Homo sapiens: one gene and its partners. The protein of the gene in region 1 interacts with the protein of each later gene in a pairwise test. Each region holds a gene or a part of one and is shown on either strand. Other genes may lie near its edges.

Region 1 (3,936 bases):
TTTTGTTTTATCTATTCTAGTCCTTTGTCCTTCCTTTTACATTTTTGAATAATCTTTTACATATCTACAAAAATCTTGCTGGGATCTTGATAGGAATTGTGTTAAATCTGTACATCAATCTGGGGAGAAATGGTATATTTATTATGCTGAGTCTTTTAATCTATGAATACAGTATTTATTTAGATCTTACTTTCCTCCATGTCAAGGTTTTTTCTGCATTAGTCCTAGTATCGGGCTGGGCGAGGTGGCTCACGCCTATAATCCCAGCACTTTGGGAGGTCAAGGTGGACGGATCACAAGGTCAGGACTTCGAGACCATCCTAGCTAACACGGTGAAACCCCGTCTCTACTAAAAAATACAAAAAATTAGCAGGGCGTGGTGGCAGGCACCTGTAGTCCCAGATACTCAGGAGGCTGAGGCAGGAGAATGGCATCAACCCGGGAGGCGGAGGTTGCAGTGAGCCAAGATCGCGCCACTGCACTCCAACCTGGGTGACAGAGCAAGACTCCGTTTCTAAAAAAAAAAAGTCCTACATATCTTTTCTCCATTTTAGACTAACATCTCTCTTTTTATTTTTTGTGTAAGTTTAAATGATACTGTACTTTTATTTTGGTTTCCACGTTAATTGCTAGTATAAATACAACTGGATTTTATGTATTAAACGTGTACATTCTTGCTGAACCTAAAGTTCAAGATTTTTTGTGGATTCCTTGGGATTTTCTATGTCAACTATTAAGTCATCTAAAAAAAAAAAGGACAGTTTTATTTCTTCCTTTGTGGTTTGTAAGCCTTCTATTTCCTTTTACTACCTTATTGATTTGGCTAGAAATTCCAGTACTATCTTAAATTACTATAGTGACAGCAAACACCCTTGCTTTGCCCTGAATATTCGGGTGAAAATATTGTGTTTCACCATTAACTTTGATGCCAGCTATAGATTTTTTTGTAGGTGCTGTTTATCAAGTTGAAAACGTTTCCCTCTATCATTCATTTTCTGAGTTTCTTTCACGAATGAGTGCTGAATTCTATCATGTTTTTTTCCTAGTAGCTTTTTTTTTTTACCTACTGACAGGACCAATTACACTCATGACTTTCAAACATTGATCCAACCTTGTAGCCACAAAATAAACTGCACTTGTTCATGGTGTATCATTCATTCTCTCTCCCTCTATTCTCTTTTTTGCCTTCTCGTGGGGTAAACATTTTTTATAATTTCATATTTATTTACCTACAGTATTTCTGAGTTTGCCTGTTTTGTATAACTTTTTAGTGGTAGCTCTAGGTTTTACATTATACATTTACAGCTTATTGTAGTCTACTGATTATCAACATTTTACCAGTTCACATAAAGTATACAAATCTTACTTTCCTCTATGCTTCTTTACCTTTCCCCATTTATAACGTAATCACAAATATTTCCTACACATACACTGAGAACCACACCACGGTTATGCTTCAAATTCCAAACACAATTTAGAAAATAAACGAATACTAAATTGACCGATATTTTTGCTGTCCATTCTTTGTTCTTCCCTCCTGATGTTCCCACATTTCTTTTGTCATTTCCTTTCTGTTTGGAGAATTTCCTTTATTTGTTATTTTCATAGAGTAGGTCAGCTGGAGATAAATCATGTGAAGGAAGTTTTCACTTGATATAAAATTCTGAGTTGATAGTCCTTTTCCTTCAGCACCTGAAAAAAATGTCCTGCCACTTCCTTATGCCCTCCACAATTTCTGATAAGATCCACTGTCAGGCCAGGCACAGTGGCTCATGACTGTAATTCCAGCAAGCGTGAGGGAGGCCGAGGCGGGCAGATCACCTGAGGTCAGGAGTTCAAGACCAGCCTGGCTAACATGGTGAAACCCCGTCTCTACTAAAAATACAAAACTAGCCAGGCGTGATGTGGCATGCCTGTAATCCCAGCTACTTGGGAGGCTAGGGCAGAACTGCTTGAACCTGGGAGGCAGAGGTTGTAGTGAGCTGAGATCACACCACTGCACTCCAGCCTGGGTGACAGAGCAAGATTCCATCTCAAAAAAAAAAAAAAAAAAAAAAAAAAAAAAGATCCATTGTCACTCAAATTGTTTCCCACTACAGGTCAAGTGGTATCTCTCTTACTATGCTTCTGTCTTCAGTTTTCAGAAGTTGGCCTGGATGTGTCTTAGCATCTTTGTGTTTATCTTCTCTGGGTTTATGCTGCTTCTTACGTCTGAAGGTGTATGGCTTGCCAAGTTTAGGAAACATACAGCAGTGATTTCTTCAGACACGTTTTCCCCCCACCCCGTCCTTCTCTCTTTCTAGACCTCTGATGACAGATGTTGCATCTTCTGTTAAAGTCCCACGGGCCCCTGAGGCTCTGCTCACTTTTTTCCAGTCTATTTTCTCTCTGCTGTTCAGATTGGGTAACTTCTATTGTTCTATCTTCAAATTGACAGCTTCTTTTGTCTGTCCTCTCCTTTCTGCTGCTAAGCCATCCACTGAATTTATTTCACATATTCTATTTTTCACTTTTGAAATTTTGTGTTTCTTTTTTACATCCTGTATTTTCTTCCTGAGGCTATTTGTCGTTTGTCTCGAATGTTAATTGGTTATTGAAGCATTTCTACAATCGCTGCTTTAAGGTCCTTGTCAAATAATTCTAAACTCTGTGTCATCTCTACGTTGGCATCAGTGGTCTTTTCTTACTGAGGTTGAGATTTTCCTATGAGTGATTTTCCATTGAAATCCTGACATCAGACTCAGGATCTGATGTAAGTCTTCTGTTAGAGCAGGCCTCTGCCAGGTGGATGTGGACGGTGAGGTGGAAGTTGAGATTCCCACTCAGCCTCCACGGACCCCTGCATGAGAAGGAAAGTTCAGCCTCCTGCCGAACTTCCACTCCCACCACCAAGGCTGAATCAGGGCTGCCTCCGTGCTGCTCCCTATACAGTCTCCCCCACACCACAGGGGGGTGGCCTCATGACCACAGGGCAGCAGTAAAGTTCCTGAGTTTTGCAAGGTCCCTCTTATGATACCCTAGCAGAAAGGAGGCTGTGCTCTGTCACCACCCAGCAGAAGTAAAACCCCAACTCCTCAGCCAGTCTTCTCTGACAGCAACCCTGCAGAGAGGAGCATCTCATCCCAGCTTGTCATGAGTGGGAATCTGAAGTACCTGCTCAGCCTCTGATTAGCAGGGTGAGGGTGGTGCTGCAGGGTTTCCTGTGATATTTAGCTGGAGGAAAGTACTTACCGCCGAAAAGTTCTCTGATTAGCAGGGTGAGGGTGGTGCTGCAGGGTTTCCTGTGATATTTAGCTGGAGGAAAGTACTTACCATCGAAAAGTTCTGTGATTTGTAGGCTGCCCCTTTCCTGGTCTTTCAGACACAGAGAGCAGGCTTTTCTTGGGCCTTGTTTTGTCTGAGTCCTTTTATACCTGCGCTGCTAGCTTATCCAGCACAACATATGAGATACATGAGGCAAAAAGAAAACTCACAGAACTAAGTTTGGTGTCATTTCTGTGGTCCCAATGTACGAAGGAAGTCTACCTTCTTTTCTCCATCTTTCAGTCTCTTTTTTTTTTTTTTTAACAGAGTGTCGCTCTGTTCCCCAGGCTGGAGTGCAATGGCACAATCTTGGCTCACTGCAACCTCCACCTCCTGGGTTCAAGCAATTCTCCTACCTCAGCCTCCCAAGTAGCTGGGACTACAGGTGCCCAACAGCACATCTGGCTAATTATTGTATTTTTAGCGGAGACAAGGTTTCACCATATTGACCAGAGTGGTCTCTAACTTGTGACCTTGTGATCTGCCCGCCTCAGCCTCCCAAAGTGCTTGGATTACAGGCGTGAGCCACTGCACCCGGCCCACTCTTACATTTGTTTTATATATGTCCAGTGTTTTTAGATGTACTTCATGGGAGGAATAAGGAAAAATAAGTCTCCATCTTTCCGCAAGCAG
Region 2 (3,500 bases), on another chromosome or scaffold:
TAGCATTGTTTTTTTATCAGAAAATGTTTTGAATTACCAAGAGTGAACATTAGTCAGATTTTAGCCATACAAATTAGTATTTGTGTTTAGGAATTGAGGCCTGTTTGTGCTTTCATTTTTTTTTTTAATTTTAATTTTTTGTTTTTGAGATGGAGCTTTGCTCTTGCCACCCAGGCTGGAGTGCAGTGGTGCGATCTCCAGTCACTGCAACCTCCACCTCCTAGGTTCAAGTGATTCTCCAGCCTCAGCCTCCCAAGTAGCTGGGATTACAGGCGCCCGCCACCATGCCCAGCTAATTTTTTATTTTGTGTTTTTAGTAGAGACGGCGTTTCACCATGTTGGCCAGGCTGGTCTCAAACTCCTGACCTCAGGTGATCCGCCCACCTCAGCCTCCCAAAGTGCTGGGGTTACAGGCATGAGCCACCGCGCCTGGCTGCGTTTTCATTTTGAATAAAGACCAGTCCAAAAAGATGTGCTGGATGCCAGTGTTATTACCGTCAAGGGAGAATTTTTAAGTTGATAAGTGATACATTGATTATTTTTATTTATCTATGCTAATCAATTTAACAATATTACACAGATAACTTTATGCTATTACATTCAGAGTTATTTCATTTTGACTTCTTTGTGAAAGATAGGAGACTAAATCCATATTTTATTCTTTAGATACAGCAGAATCCAGGTCTGGTAGAAGAACAGATGTAAATCCGTTTTTGGCTCCTCGCTCGGCAGCTGTACCTCTTATTAACCCAGCTGGACTTGGACCTGGTGGGCCCGGGCATCTTCTTCTGAAACCCATCTCAGATGTTTTGCCCACATTTACACCTTTGCCAGCGTTACCTGACAACAGTGCTGGGGTTGTGCTGAAAGACCTTTTAAAGCAATAGATGATTCTCAAGCCAGAGACAATCTAGCACTTTAAAGAAACCATGAACACTATATGTATGTACTTTATCACAAAGTGGCCTTTGGGGAGAAAGTCATGTATTTGTTCGCAATTATGCTTTCTCTGAATTTAATAAAAATATTCCTAATGCTTTTAGAAACTGCAGGTGTCAGGAGCAAGTGTTTGCTATATAATCTGCTTTATTCCTTCTGATTTGACCTAATTTAAGCTAGGAACATTTAATTTATCTTTTACCTTAATTTACAAAAATACAGACAGACAAAAATACTAGTAGCTATATGGCAGCTTTTTATTTCCTTTTGTGATTTCCAAGCTCATTTAAGCTAGAGATTGTGGTTTATCAAGAGAGTGTTTTTTTTTTTTAAACGAAGAATAAAAAAATACTAGTAGTGGCTTCTCTGCATAGTGCAGAAAGTTGATTTGAAGCATATATTGATCATCTTTAGAGGACTTTGTGGAGACAGGCCAACAAGATTGTTGCTGGAAGGTCATAGGTTCCCTGAGGTGAAGTATGTATTTGGTCCTGTGCAATATTATCATGTGTGTAGATTCTTTTTTTGTTTGTTTTAAATAGAGATGGGGTCTCACTATGTTGCCAGGCTGGCCTCAAACTCCTGGGCTCAAGTGATCCTCCCACCTCAGCCTCCCAAAGTGCTGGGATTAAGGCATGAGCCACTGCGCCTGGCCCTGTGTGTAAATTCATGTGACTACCACCACAGGCAAGACACGGAAGACTTCCATTACAAGCATCCCCCTGTGTTGCCCTCTCATAATCATTGCCACCTCTCTCCCTGGCCCTCTCCTTAATCCCTGACAACCACTTACTGTTCTCCATCTCAGTCATTTTGTTATTTTGAGAATGTTATATAAATGGAATCAATATATACCCTCTTGAGACTGGCTTTTTTTCACTCAGCATAATTCCCTTGAGATCCATCCAAGGCTTTGGATGTATCACTAGTTTGTTCCTTTTTATTGTTGAGCATATAGTGCAGATATATCACTTAGTTTTAACAGCTAAGGTATCTATTTAAAGATACCATCTTAAAACTAAATGTTACACAAATTCATGCAACTTTCATATAAGCATTAAACCATACAGCTGCATCTACGTAAGTATAATTAGCAAAATCACTGAACATGCCACTTCCTGCCTCCGTCTGCGGTGTTGACATATGAGGTACAGCAATCCGAGAGTCAACTGTTATCACGGTGGCCACTGAGGGCAGTGAAATCACTTTGATAGCACCAGTACCCAGATGTTTGAAACTTAAGAAAGTATTTCTTTAATTTTTCATAAACCCATCATAAAAAAAAAATCCCGACTTGAAACTTAACTGTATCTGGATGTTCATATTTTTATTAGTTGTTGAAGTTGTACATTTAAAAAGATATTTCTTGCAAATTTTGTAAATTTCTATATGCTTTTAAAATAGAAACATTTGTATAACAAGGAAGGATGAAAATAAAACAAATTCAAATATGTGAATAGTCCTGGCTGAGGCCAGAACTAAATTTGGTTATTTGCAAGTTTTACTGTGATTAACTGTACTTTCTAATGTATTTGGAAGACTGGAAGTCTTAATTCCATGTTGATGGGTGAAACTTGTTTTTCTGAAAAATGAAGTAACTGAAAATGCTGCTTCAGAATGTCTTGTATCTCCTTAGATAACTAATTTATATTGCCATTCTTTATTTACTATACTTTAAAGGAAGTTGTCATGCAAGTTCTATATTAGAACTGTCAAACTGCCTCTTGGTTTTTGCCTATTATTATTTCTCTGTGAGTTGTTACTCCTTGGTTTTTATATGCTCCTAACAAAGATACTTTCACTGACTATCCTACATTATTTGCTGCTTGCCATTGAAATTTCATTTCAGTGTGGAGAAATGAAATACTAGTTTCTAAGTTAAAAAAGACACATGGTCCTTTATTTTTAAGAAATAGAATATGTAAAAAGTTTTCTCTTTTAATTTGAAAAAGAGATGCATGGTTGGTATTTAAGTAGTATGTCATCATATTTGAAATGCCTTTTGTGACATTTTTGAGTATTTCCTTCTCTGACCAAAACAACTTGTCCGCCTCTCATCCCATGGTTTAACGTAAGTTTAAAAGCTGTTGTGGGTGGATTGCATAGCTAAACATCACAGAGCATGATATTAAATGGCTGCTATTTAAATAAATATGTGACCTTGTCCTAAAGCTATAATACTGGCCGGGCACAGTGGCTCACGCCTGTAATCCCAGAACTTTGGGAGGGTGAGGTGGGTGGATCACCTGAGGTCAGGAGTTCAAGACCAGCCTGGCCAACATGGTGAAACCCCATCTCTACTAAAAATACAAAAATTAGCTGGGCATGGTGGCAGGCGCCTATAATCCCAGCTACTCAGGAGGCTGAGGCAGGAGAATTGCTTGACCCCGGGAAGTGGAGGTTGCAGTTAGCAACCACTCCACTGCACTCCAGCCTGAGCGACAGAGCGAGACTCTGTCTCAAAAAAAAAAAAAAAAAAAAAAAAGCTATAGTACCTAATGTTTTCATTGTGTCATTGAAACTATAGCTGACTGGTATGTATACTAAGTGTTCGTTGATCT
Region 3 (3,500 bases), on another chromosome or scaffold:
ACAGGACCCTTTTTAAACTTGAACTTCCTCCTAGGGCCATGATTAAACTTCTGTAGACGAACTTGACTTCCACTGCTTCACAATAGGCCCATTATGTGCTGGAGTAGGCCCTGTGGTTTTTAAGGCAGATCTGGTCGGGTTCTGGACTAGGTCCAGGCTCCAGTTCTAACCTGGTTCAAGGCCTGCCCAGACCCAGTTCTGATGCAGTCACTACTTCCTCCCGCAGATCTCTTCATGCCGCTGTAAGCTCGGAGGCCAAGGATGCGGAGTAGGCTTCCCCCAGCGCTTGCCGCCCTGGGCGCGGCCCTGCTCCTGTCTTCCATTGAGGCAGAAGGTAAAAGGCTCCCTTCCCCTTCACCGAGTGACAATGCAAAATTCGAGAAAGGAAAAAACACATCTTTCTTGCTTCTATTGCTTGCTCTGTTTTCCCTGCGCTTCGTGCTTTCTCCGGTGGTTTCTCTCCTTCAGAGAAACGCCCCTTTCTCCTGAGGTTTGTCCATTTCCCAGCTCTCAGGTCCAGCTCTTTCGTATTCTGCTTAATGCATTCCGTACAGTGCTGTGTGGTCTTCTTGAGCTTGTCTCTGCGGTGTGCTGTCCACACTGCCACCTGCACTGCCGCCTAATAAGAGGACCAGCCGCCCGAGAGGGGGCGACGGCTCTAATCAGCGCAACCAACAGGACACCTCCGGGTGGCACCCAGGAGCCCCGAAGAGCGGGCGCACTCGCTCGCTTGGCTGGTAACCAACCACCTGGCTCGGGGCTGCGACCTCGGTGACAGAACACAATAAAAGACTCCAACAGCGCTGGCTCTGCGCCTCTGTGTGCTTTGTGGGGAGCTCAGTCGGCGGGGCGGACGGTGCGGGCAGATGAGCCAGCAGCCAAGCAGCCTGGGGGATGATGGCAGGCAAGCGGAGATCCGGGACCCCAGGTGTTCGCACGACCTAGGGTCGCGGCTGTCCCTGTTGGTTAGCAGGGCTCCAAGGCGCGTGGCCTGGACTGGTCCAGCTCAGACAGGTTGAGCCTGGGCCAAGGTTTCCAGCCTGGGAAGCAAGCGCGCGCCGGAGTTGCTGGGCACCACCTCCAGTGTCCTGCCCTTGCTCCATCCTGCCTCCCTCAGGGACAGCCGGGTGCGTCGGACCTTCCCGCGGAGGCAGTGGGGCGCTCCGAGATGGGTTTCCAAAACGGCGCCGTGTGGCCCCTCCTCTAGAAAATGGAGGGCTTTTGTTAGATGTCCCACCCAATTTTATTTGTTGTGTGCACTTGATGTCTTAATTTCTCAGTGTTCATTAAACAAGCCATTTCAATATGTCAACCCCATGGCGGCTTCTGTGGCCCCTCAGTTGTCACTGGAGACCTGACAAATTAGTTTTCTTATTCTGCAAAGAAAATGGGGTAATGTCATGAAAGATATCTTTTTTTTTTTTCAGTAAAGAAATACCCCTGATGAAGTTAAGGGAGGAAAAAAAACACTTCTGCCAAGTGACAGCTGTGGAAGTTCTGGGTTGAGGTGTGCTTTTTTAGAGGCTGTGAGAAAGTATGGTTGTTTGCATGATTATGCCAAGGTTTTCAAGGTTTCTATAGTGTTGGATTTTCTACTTCAAGACTACAGGTAAAAAAAAAATTAGGGGAAGCAGAGTGTTTCCAAAATGTATGGCATGTTAAGAAAAGTGACAGAAACTTGCTGACTTTTCTTAGCTGATGAATATTTTATGAATGTAGAGGCTTTTCAGAGTGGCCTCTGTGAAGTAATAGTCAGATGAAGTTGCTTTTAATGTTCCTTTCTATGTCGTTGTTAGGAAGGAATTTTATTTGAGGAACTTCTGGAGGCCCTACTACAGATATTTTTAGATAATTCACTGAAGTGGCCCATTTATTGCTCATTAAGAAAATAGTTATTTGAAAATCAGAAAGAGTTGAGAATTCTTAGAAAAAGAGTTAGGCTGGAAATGATGTAAGTGGAAAAAATTGATTCTGAATTAGATATTGGCTGGTTAGCAAAGTGCAGTTAGAAAGAACAGCTTACTATCTACATTTCTGATTATTCCCATATTATATTTTATCTTTTAAATTTGTATTTATTTCCATATGGTACAGCTCTTTTTTTTTTTGCTTCTTAATCTGTGTCTTTTCTTGTATCCCATCTCCTTAAGTTAGTATTTAATAATTATATTTTAATAGGATTCATTTTTTGGCCTTATTCTCTAGTTTGGCATTGTCAAATAGAAATATGGTATGAGCCACAAATGTAAGCCACATATGTAACCTACATTTTTTTCTGGTAGCCATATTCAAAATGGAAAAAGAAACAGGATAAATTAAATTTTATAATGTATTTTATTTAACCTAAATTATTTCATCATGGAGCCAATATGAAAATTATTAGTGAGATACTTGACTTTTTTTGTACTAAGTCTTTGACAATTGGGTGTGTATTTTATACTTACAGTGCAATTTATTCTTTAAGTTATTTTTATTTTTCCTGAGACAGAGTCTCGCTCTGTTGCCCAGGCTGGAGTGTAGTGGCTTGATCTCGGCTCACTGCAGCCTCCGCCTCCTGGGTTCAAGTGATTCCCATGCCTTAACCTCCTGAGTAGCTGGTACTACAGGGGTTTGCCACCATGCCTGGCTAATTTTTGTATTTTTAGTAGAGACGGGGTTTCACCATGTTGGCCAGGCTGGTCTCGAACCCCTGGCCTCAATTGATTCACCTGCCTCGGCCTCCCAAAGTGCTGGGATTACAGGCAGCACAGTTTATTTCGTACTGGCCACATTTTAAGAGCTTGCTAGCCACAGATGTCTGGTTGCTTCCGTGTCGGACAGCACAGCTCTGCTGTTGACTACTAAGTGGTGCTAGGGGCCTTTGAAGGGCTAACAAAATTTGGGGCCAAAGCCTTTCTGGGGTCACTGGGCTGGAACCAGAATTTCTTTGAAATATTTCTGTTGGGGGCATTTCAAAATTTCAACTTGGGACTCCATTTGGTACCATGCCATTTTGATCTGAGTCCTAAAGTAGCCACAGTTACGTTTCTTTTCCTTTCATGACTCACACTTGCACTCTTATATTCATACTATTTTATTACCATTTTCTATGACCTTAATGTTTTATATATTAAAAACCCAATACCTTTTTGAAAACATTAAAATGTTTTGGTATTCACTTTTTGCCTTTCTTCTTTTTTATAGTGGTAATATTTTTGTCTTGTTTTTCTTCTGCTTATTTGTATTAGGAGCTATATTTTTCATACTATGTTATCTTGTCCTATAGAAATAAGAGTGGAAATGATTTTTTCACTTCAGTATCTATAATTTTTAGCCACTGCAGAGACTTTATCAACCGCATCACTGCATAGACTTTATCAACTGTATCTGAGTGGCCTAGAATGTATGAATTATTTTTGGTTCATGTATGATACAGTATGTTAATTATCCTGTAGAAAACTTAACACTTTGCATATAAAGATTAATGGTCAGTATTCCCTGAGAACTGGGCACTTTTCTAA
Region 4 (3,919 bases), on another chromosome or scaffold:
CAGGCCTAATAAAACTTTCCACAGTGATGGTAGTATATATCCATACCATTGAGTATGGTAATCATGAGCCACATGTGGCAATTCTATACTTAAATATGTCTGTTGTGACTTAGGAACTGAATTATTGACTTTAAATTTAAATAACCATGTTTGACTAATAGCTTCCATATTGGACAACACAGGTCTAGGGCATGAAAATGGTTAATGATGTTGAGGATGATACTCTAGAATCTTTAGACACCCAACAAAGACCCTAAGTGTAGTGTATTTACCATGCTATATTTACTAAGGAGTTTCAGAATAGTTTTTAGTTAAGGGTTATGATTAATTCTTGGCTAATGAAACAAAGTAACCTGTACACTTAAGTCTTAGTGATACTTGGTGTTAACTAATGATTTTTATTACATCTTGAAAATTCAGTTGGTATTTGTTAAAGCGGGCAGTACATAGCTATTAGAGAGAGCACTCAAGTAGTTCTTTGGTACTTCCTTATTTTCGCTTTTGTAAAATTCCTTCTTTCCTAGTCCTGAATCGCTCTTGGAGATAAAGGAAAAGATGAAAGCAAATTATCCTTATAGTGTAACTGAAGAGACAATCTACCATGAATCAGATAATTTGATAATATTAGCTTAACTAATATAATTACAAAGATAAGTCTTTTTAAAAAAAGGCCGAGGCATGCAGATCACCCGAGGTCAGGAGTTTGAGACCAGCCTGGCCAACATGGTGAAACCCCGTCTCTACTAAAACTACAAAATTAGCTGGGCGTGGTGGCGCATGCCTGTAATCCCAGCTACTTGGGAGGCTGAGGCAGGAGAATCACTTGAACCCATGAGGCGGTGGTTGCAATGAGCCGAGATCATGCCACTGCACTCCAGCCTGGGCAAAAAGAGCAAAACTCCATTTAAAAAAAAAAAAGTTAATACGACTCATGATAAACCTAATATTGATTAGCATTTATTGTTTATTCCACTGCCTCCCTCCATTAATATAAATGATCGGAGAGCTGACTATAATAACTATAAGCTAATAACTTATTATATATGATAACTATAATTCTCAGTTTTACTATGAGAGTAAAACCGAGAATTAAAATCACACGGATAGTTTGGACGTTTAAAACAGTAAATAACAGGTGTAGTTTCACTGGATAAAATCCAGATGAGATAGCTTTTACTCATGTTTTCCATGTGAATGATCACCTCTTGTTCTTTTTTGAGACGGACTCTCGCTCTGTCACCCAGGCTGGAGTGCAGTGATGCAATCTCAGCTCACTGCAAGCTCCGCCTGCCGGGTTCACGCCATTCTCCTGTCTCAGCCTCCCTAGTAGCTGAGACTACAGGCACCCGCCACCATGCCCGGCTAATTTTTTGTATGTTTAGTAGAGACGGGGTTTCACTGTGTTAGCCAGGATGGTCTCGATCTCCTGACCTCGTGATCCGCCTGTCTCGGCCTCCCAAAGTGCTAGGATTAAAGGTGTGAGCCACCGCGCCCGGCCACCTCTTCATTTTTAAAACAACATTACAAGGAATAAAAAGCATATCCTGCCTTTCTCCCTTCCCCCAAATTTTGTAAAAATAATACAGTAAACTTGCAGCGCAGAAAATAGTAAAAAGAAAGTAAAAAACTACTCGTATTTAAATTTTATAGGGTTTAGATTGAGATAAACATGATATGAAACAGCTTCACTGGTATCAGAAGATAGTTCAGATTGGGCCGGGCACGGTGGCTCACGCCTGTAATCCCAGCACTTTGGGAGGCCAAGATGAGCGGATCACCTGAGGTCAGGAGTTCGAGACCAGCCTGGCCAACATGGTGAAATCCCTTCTCTACTTAAAATACAAAAATTAGCTGACTGTGGTGGCCGGCGCCTGTAATCCCAGGTACTTGGGAGGCTGAGGCAGGAAAATTGCTTCAACCCAGGCAGGCGCCTGTAATCCCAGGTACTTGAGAGGCTGAGGCAGGAAAAATTGCTTAAACCCAGGCAGGCGCCTATAATCCCAGGTACTTAGGAGGCTGAGGCAGGAAAATTGCTTAAACCCAGGAGGTAGAGGTTGCAGTGAGCCAAGATCGCACCACTGCACTCCAGCCTGGGGACAGAACAAGATTGTCTCTCAAAAAAAAAAAAAAAAAAAAAAAAAACAGAAAAAAAGTTCAAATTGTACAAAATAATAGGAATAAAAAAGAATTTAGACTGCTTCAATCTTTTTTTCCTCTTCTTTAAACAAGTTGTTGGGCTGTTTATACTGTCAAGAGCAAGTATGGTGAATTGTCATTATTGCTTTTTTCTGGGGGAATTAATGCACATTTATTCAGTCATTCATTATTTTGAAATATATTCTTTTCCTCATAACTACAGTGTCCCAAAGCTTATAGTTTATTTTCACCTCCTTGCAGATTTGCTGCGGATGTTTTTTGATTGTCTATATGACGAGGAGGTGATCTCCGAGGATGCCTTCTACAAATGGGAGAGCAGCAAGGACCCTGCAGAGCAGAATGGGAAGGGCGTGGCTCTGAAATCTGTCACGGCATTCTTCACGTGGCTGCGGGAAGCAGAAGAGGAGTCTGAGGATAACTAAAACTTCAAATACACAAAATGAAACAAAAGAAACAATTTAAGTATTTTTTTAAAAAGTTTCACGTCTTCGCCAATCACAGTGCAGCAAGGCCAATTCTCGCAGAAACCCCCACGTGTGCACGAGTGGGAGAGGGGAAAGAGAAAAAAAGGTGATCATGGAGGAAAAAGGTACTGGATAAAAGTAAACTTCAAACCTTAGGGCGGGAGCACTAAAACCAAAATACATGTATTATTTATAGAAAATATTTTCTGTTTTAATCTTTTCTTTTTAAACAAGGACTCATACTTAAAAAAATGTTTAGCAAAAAAAAAAAAAGTTGAGAACTTTTAATTTATTTTAAGGACTGCAAATGCCAGTGTAATTTTTTAATTTGCAGTTTCTGTAAACAACTTGTATAATAGAAAAGCAGAGAAATAAATTTCCCTCCCCTTCAAGATGCACCTCATGTTTGTTTTAAGGTATAGCATTTAGTCCAGATTTGAGAAAGTTTGGGGTGAACAAGGTAAGAAAGATTTTTTTTTTTTTGGCATCAAATCTTTCTGCCTGCCTCTCAGCTTGCTTCAGAAAATTTAAAAAATCACAATAGTAATCAAAACATACATAACATTGAAACAGAAGGAAATGCTGTGGACCACAGAACTCCAAGAATTGTTTAAAAAAAAAAAAGTGCTACCCTGAGAAAAGTACTCTTAATACTCTTGAAATCTTTAGAGCAACTTTAAGGCTTGTAAATACATAGAACAAATATTTAAAAAAACAAAAAGAAATTGACTCAGTACTATTTCTTTTCACTTTGAAAATATAAAGAACAAAATAAAGACAAACATTGCAAGTTTAAAAGAAAGTAAAGTGACTTCTCCTTTGGACAGCTGCTGCATGTGTGCCCATTCCTGGGGGTGCTGTCTGGCTATTTATTGTCTAATTCAAATCACTCCTGAGGGGAGAGAGATAAAACGAGAGAGAGTGAGAGAGTGTGTGTATGTGCGTGTATGCGCACGTATGTGCATGCACATGTATGTATGTATATGTCTCTACTCACTGAAAAGGCAAGCTACTTTGTGGGTAAGGAGGGCACTTGTGCTTGGGTGGGAATGCCCCACTGGGAGTCCAGTGAAACTTGTTTCCAACACTAACTAAAAATGCATTCAGGACAGTAGGCCTCAAGGGCAGTCCTTTAGATAACTAAGTTTTCCACTCTGTGTATCAGGACTCAGGACAATAATTCACTTTGAGACTGCCACTACCACTGATTTTAAAATCTTCCATCAATTGCCTGCAATGCTTAAGAAACCCAAAGATGTCCTCTAAAGAATGAATAAAACCAAAAGCTATATTATGCT

What was found.
Region 2: the proteins of WDR37 (region 1) and TRIP11 interact in a two-hybrid assay, tested with the Homo sapiens proteins (one large-scale study listed by BioGRID).
Region 3: the proteins of WDR37 (region 1) and COL12A1 interact in a two-hybrid assay, tested with the Homo sapiens proteins (one large-scale study listed by BioGRID).
Region 4: the proteins of WDR37 (region 1) and EIF4G3 interact in a two-hybrid assay, tested with the Homo sapiens proteins (one large-scale study listed by BioGRID).

Annotation. Positions count from the first base shown.
Region 1 is NC_000010.11:1,062,713-1,066,648, reverse strand, and holds part of WDR37 (WD repeat-containing protein 37), read right to left. Parts: intron 1-3,936. UniProt on the Homo sapiens protein: Required for normal ER Ca2+ handling in lymphocytes. Together with PACS1, it plays an essential role in stabilizing peripheral lymphocyte populations.
Region 2 is NC_000014.9:91,967,060-91,970,559, reverse strand, and holds part of TRIP11 (thyroid receptor-interacting protein 11), read left to right. Parts: intron 1-666; coding exon 667-887; 3' UTR 888-3,500.
Region 3 is NC_000006.12:75,199,554-75,203,053, reverse strand, and holds part of COL12A1 (collagen alpha-1(XII) chain long), read left to right. Parts: intron 1-226; 5' UTR 227-261; coding exon 262-334; intron 335-3,229; exon of another isoform or gene 3,230-3,500. UniProt on the Homo sapiens protein: Type XII collagen interacts with type I collagen-containing fibrils, the COL1 domain could be associated with the surface of the fibrils, and the COL2 and NC3 domains may be localized in the perifibrillar matrix.
Region 4 is NC_000001.11:20,805,979-20,809,897, reverse strand, and holds the end of EIF4G3 (eukaryotic translation initiation factor 4 gamma 3), read left to right. Parts: intron 1-2,397; coding exon 2,398-2,579; 3' UTR 2,580-3,419; downstream 3,420-3,919. UniProt on the Homo sapiens protein: Component of the protein complex eIF4F, which is involved in the recognition of the mRNA cap, ATP-dependent unwinding of 5'-terminal secondary structure and recruitment of mRNA to the ribosome. Functional homolog of EIF4G1.